2 separate regions of the Homo sapiens genome follow, and region 2 is linked to region 1. Evidence: fine-mapped expression QTL. A gene starts in region 1. The other region holds a variant in brackets. All regions are shown on one strand. Distances are from middle to middle.

The links.
Region 2: its variant is fine-mapped to the expression of C8orf34-AS1 in cerebellum (GTEx, PIP above 0.99). The same link has a PIP of 0.9 or more in cerebellar hemisphere.

What each region holds. Positions count from the first base shown.
Region 1 is chr8:68,330,058-68,332,966 of GRCh38, reverse strand. C8orf34-AS1 (C8orf34 antisense RNA 1) reads left to right here and starts at 1,476. Exons shown (of 3, transcript NR_038877.1): 1 at 1,476-1,660. C8orf34 (chromosome 8 open reading frame 34) reads right to left here and starts at 2,012. Exons shown (of 14, transcript NM_052958.4): 1 at 1,628-2,012. The coding sequence starts at 1,954.
Region 2 is chr8:68,382,238-68,385,146 of GRCh38, reverse strand. All of the region lies in intron 1 of C8orf34 (chromosome 8 open reading frame 34), which reads right to left. Among named protein-coding and RNA genes, the nearest start is that of C8orf34-AS1, 52 kb to the right of the region's middle. The variant C/G (reference allele first, on the strand shown) is at 1,441.

The DNA.
Region 1 (2,909 bases):
ACTGCGTTGCAGAAGGTTTTAGGCTTCTGCCTTTAAAAAAATTATATAGGATTATGTATAATCAATAATCATTAAACTAAAGGCAAAGAAAAGAAATCTGGTAGTTCCATCAATTTTATTTCGCTCTTGCATGGATTGCCTTTGTTAACATTTTTGGCAGAAAAAAGAATCAAAGCAATTGTAGGACTCTGCACCCCACAATGCGAGCTTCAATTGAAACAATGGTCTTATCGTCTAAGACAGATCAACGTTAAAGTTGGGCAAAAAAACTTAGGAGATCTTGCAAATCTTGTTATGTGAAACCCGTCCTCCCAAAAGACCTATTGGACCACACCTTTGTCCTCCGCGCCCTTTTTTTGCAGGGTCATTAACTCGCATTATTTTTTTGTTCTCCACAGTTCTCACTTGCTTCTCTTCAGTCTTTGCTAGGTTTTCCGCGATCTCCAGTGCAGCCCCTTCCACTTGCCGCGATTCTGCCTCTCTCAGACACTGACACGTAACCTCCTCCCCATACCAAGCCCTCACCCCAAACCAAGCTGTTAAGAACAGCTACAACTGCTTCTGGGAGACGTGGGGGGCGGGGGCAAGGCGGGGGCAAGGCGGGGGCAAGGCGGGAGCACCTCGACCCTCCCGCGAACTCTCGCCGCCGGTCAGTGCCCCCTGAACTGGATGGGACCAAGGGAGTCCCTCCGCAAGGGCCTCCACTTCTGACTACGGTCCGCACGCCCCACCCCTGCTCAGCACCCTGGCAACCCGCGGGACGCTTTGCTGGTGCCAGGCTTCAATCTCTTGTTCTCATTTTCTCGTGTCCTCGCGCTCTTCCTTCTACTGTATTTTTGTCTTAAATTCTTTAATGGCGAGAGAGAGAAAAAAAAACAAAACCAGCTCAGAGCTATAGTCTTCTTCCACAAATACGTGTGTGCTTTTCAGAACCTTTCTCCGTCCCTTTCTCCTGCTAACACATGTGGGGTCTGCAGTGCAAAGGACTCTCCTTTCGTCCAGTGACCAAATGGCAGTCTCTCAGTTTGCCAATTTCATTCATCACGCCCGCACCGACTGAAGCCTACTCCTCACCAGTTCAGCTGTCTTCCAGTTAATTGTATTAACTGCTAAGCACCTCCTCCACCTTTTCGGGTTCTATTACCGCCCTCATTAAAAAAAAAAAAAAAAAAAAAAAAAAAAAGAAGGAAAGAAAAGAAAAGAAAAAAGAAAATCCAACACGAACACTCAAGATAGCGTGAATTCAAAAAAGAAAGTGTGCGTGTGCAACACAGTCTGAGTGTGTGCATCCGTATGCGTCGCCTGCCTCAGCCTGCCCGGGTCCTGAACATGTAGCTGAGAGGTGCAGGACAGTCAGAGGGCCAAAACTTCCCCTGCCAGGCTGAGGCTGGGCCCTCCCGAGCTCACCTGTCCGCGTTCAGGTAACTGGCTAAGTGCCCGCCCGGCCGCGTTCCAGGACACCTGGCCGGGACAGAGCGAATGCCAGTGAATCCCAGGGCGCCCTCTCCCGCGCGTTGGTTCTCTAGCCCTCCTTCCCTGGGAGGGGTGGGATTGGGAGTGTTCTGTTTTCATTACTGCACCCCTTCCCCTAAAGACAACGGGACTGCCCTCCTCCACAGCGCCTTACCTCAAACAGGGGACCGATCTTGTTCTTCTCCAGGTAAGCCTGGATCCGGGTTTGCGGATGAGACGCCATGGGGAACAGATGGGACCGCGAAGAGAGTGCAGGGAGAACGCGCGGCTGTGCGCCTCCGCTGGGGACAACCCTCCTTTTACCCGGACTGGGGCCGGGACAGGAGCTCCGGAGCCTCGGCTGCCCTGCGTGGCTGGCTCGGCCCCGGCCGCGGGCGTGGGTGGCAGCCCGGGGAGCCACGCGCGCGTGGGGCGCTGAGAGCCGGAAGCCTGGGCGCAGCGCCGCCAACTCAGACAACTCCGAGGCGAGGGGAGAACTCATTCATCGCGTTCTCCGCCTCGCGCCCACCCTCGCCGCTCTCCGCAGCGCCCGGCGCAGTGGGGAAATTCGAGGCAGAGGTTCCTTTCTCCTCTGGGCGGCAGCAGCAGGAATCAGGGGGCGGGAGGCGAGCTGTGTCGAGGGGCGCACGCGGGCGGACAGGGGCCGCGGGGCTCGAACTCGCCACCGGTGTGTGTGCGTGCGTGCGTGTGTGTGTGTGTCCGTGCGCGCGCGACTGTGTGTACCTCCTTTCCCCGGTGACGGAACAAACAGCCCGGGCTGCTCCCCGAGGCTGCTCGCCCTACCAGCCGCTCCCTAGCGACAGCGCCGCTTAAAAAGCCAATGGTGAAGGTGCTTCTTTCAAAGTGCACATAAATCTGGTGCTTGTTGGCTACTCCTTGGCAGCTACAAATGCAGTTCGAAAGGGGATCGTCCCCACCGCCCCTTCTGAGCCTCTCCTCAGCACCTTCTGCCCTGCCTACTCTAGCGCAGGGGTTGAGAAGGGCAGAGTTTTGAGAAGGTGCGTGGGTTTAAGGGTTTGCCGCGAAAAAGAAGTTGCCTTCCTTTTCAAAATCTGGTTTGGCCTGGAGCAAGTCGACGGGTGAACGCAGCCTGAGAACCCAGCTGAAAACTCTCAAAGTGCAGGAGCTCAAAGGCTGGAACCAGCCTTTCAGCATTTGACAGGGAGAAGAGAAATGAGCGAGCCAGCCCTCCCCTCCAAAGTTGGCCTTCCTAATCCACGCCTTGAGTCATGTCTGTATACCTATAACTGCATCTCAGACACCACACTATCCCACTTCATAATGTTTCCTCTAGATACTGCGTGAGCTGCTCAAATTTAGCCAATACCTTTCTTATTATGCAGGGATTTCCGAGTCGAAGGTTTGCAGATAGCCCAGGCTTCCTCACAGAGCTCTCTTTCTTGTGAAATACAATACTAAGGTCCCAATGACAATTT
Region 2 (2,909 bases), 52 kb before region 1:
CATAGTAATTGTGGTGAGGTATTGGCTTATTAATTAAAGAGGACACTCCATGGTTCTGTGACCTCAATTCAAGTTGTTTACATTCACAAGGATATAACCACACTGAGCCAAGAGACTTTAAACTCATTAAAAGCATATTGCATATTTTTTTCGTTCCTTCGTTTTCAGCTTCTTCTTAATCAAGAACACCCTATTTTCTGGTGTGTAAAGTTAATCCTCTTTGATAGAAAATCTATCAGCAAAATAAAGGTTGAATCACTCTACACTCTCATGTCATCTGTTAAAATTTCACCATCTGCTCCCACCATGAGCTTGGTTCCATCATGTTATTATTAGAACCTACATTTCCAATCTTTCAAAATATATGCAGAGTGCAAGAGAGAACAAAACCTTTGGCTGAGTGGAGATAACAGTTAAGCCTGCACGTACCAACTGGATCACTTTTCTTGTCAAAGCATTTTATGTATTTAAACAACCAGTTTTAGCCTGATTAATCTGAGAGCAATCAGCAACAGCAGAGGGCAAACCATGCCCTTATGGAATAAACTCACCCTGGCTTTTACTATGCATCTCCTCACTTCTTAAAAACACAATGTTTGTTGTTGTACAATATTTAATCATACAGCCTAGAGTTTTACTATTAACCAATTAATCTTGTCTTCTTTTATTTAACAAGTAAAGCAATATCTTGGCAACAAAAGCGCAGACCCAGAAGCAGAGGCCAGCGCCATATATATCAAACAGACTGCCCTGCATTCCAAACATATTGTTGGGCCAGACAGCAAATCAAGAAGTGATGCAAACAGCAAGATATTAGTACTTTCAACACTAAACTGGCAAAAGCCATTGATACATGTTCTTTTGACCTACTGTTTTTGCTGTTGCTGTCATTTTACTCTCGAAGGAACCTATTGAAACTTCAAAGGAGAGGGTTGAGAACTCTATATTGACATTGACTTTAGATGTAAACAAAATTTAAAAATAATAGTCTTAGAAAATAGAATTGGAAAGAGCCAAATTTTCACCTCTAAAGCATTTCATTTTAGTTCATTTTGTTAAAAGGGTAAAACTTTCCTTCCTATCATGTCTTCTGAGAAAGGGTAGTGTGGTTAAGTATCTCCTAAATAGGACACACATCTGAATGGCAGACAGTTTGAAATTCACCAGCATCTATACCAAAATCCTGTATGTTTCTTTTGGCAGAACAGAAATCCTCTTCCTCCCACCCTATTAGGGAGATTACATTGTCTCATTTAGACTGCTTAATGATACAAACATGGGTTCTTTAGCTCAAGGAGTATTTTTTCAGCACCTGGCCAGTGCCAGGCTATTCTCCTGGACACATTGGCACAAGACAGTCATGGAGATGCCAGTGACTGCAGAGAGGAAATGAGCAATTCTCAGCACAAGTCAAAATAAATAATCAGGATGGGCTGCAGT[C/G]GAGGATGTAGTTTTTTTCTAATATTTTTCCAGAAGGGTGCACTATTGCACACTGTACAGCTCGAAGCACAAATTAGGATGTGATAACTTAGAAGCTTATTCATCATTCTTACACTGTAGATGCAGATGTATATACTGGACCTGAAACCTTAGAGAAACATTCTAGACCCGAGTATACTTTCTCCCAGCAGGGACCTTGAAGGGAATATGTATTTCAATCACATGAAAACTATGAACTTTAAATATTAATGCTGGAAGAAAAATTTCATGATGGGGAAATTGTCTGAACAAGCAAGACAGACCTATGGAACAGCTCATACATTACCAGTCACCATCACAGGGATCTGAAGTAGGAAATGGGGAAATGGGGCTAGAGGACACAGTTTTATGGTTAACATCATGGCCCAAATTTAGGCAAATGTTTCCCCTCTTAATGTGCTCTACATCGTACAGTTGAAGTAAATTCAGAATTTTCAATAAAATTTTACTAGAAACTAGGATGTAAATAAAGAATATAAACATGGCCATGATAATGACCCCAGATAATTTCACTCTCAAGTGTGTGCTGGACCTAGGATGACGGTCACATCTTCCTGACTTTCAGATTTCCTAATTCTTGGTCTGACATTATCTTTAACCTATGCTACAATATATAACCTCCTAGATATGCAGACTCAATGTCTAGGCCAAAAGAAAGACAGCACTCTTCTGATCATGAGAGTGGAGCTTTCATTTTCTAGCTCCTGTCTGAGGAACCCCCTTTCTCCCAGGAGGATGAAACTGGCATGGATGCCAGTGCACGGATGCAAAGTAGACCTATCAGAAGATATGATATAAATATAAATATAAATTTCAGAATTGCCAAATAGAATTCTATTCCAACCAAATAGAAAGTGTTGGAATCCATAGAATCTTTCTAAAGGAAAGTATAAAATAAAAAAAGAGGAGATCTAGGACTGAGTCCTGAGAATGTTCAACTTTTAAAGAGCAGGTGGAGGTGGAGGAGTTCCTAAGGGAGACTGAGAAGAAATGGCCTGAAGAGGCTGGAAGAAAACTAAGGGAGCATGGTGTCACAGGGGCCAAGGGATGGCAGCATCTTACTGTGTGGAATAGATGGGAGGCCAGGAATGATGGGAAATAGAAATGCTTCTGAACCTAAGGCCCATTGGTCCAGCAAAAGTATTCTGCAATGAGAGCAGTACTCTAGGTCTGCTGTGTTCAACACAGTAGGTACACGTTACTTTTGAACTCTTGAAATCTGGCTAGTGAGAATGAAGACTGAATTTCTAATTTAATTTACTTTAGTTCATTGTATAATTATTTCTGTATCACAGATGAGGAAACAGAGGCAAAAATACAGAGAAAAAAGCAACCTATAACACTGTCAAGATTGTAAACTGTAAAAATCTCTCTGGAAAGCATTTTGGCAATATATGTGAAATGTCTTAAATTGTGCACATCATTTTATA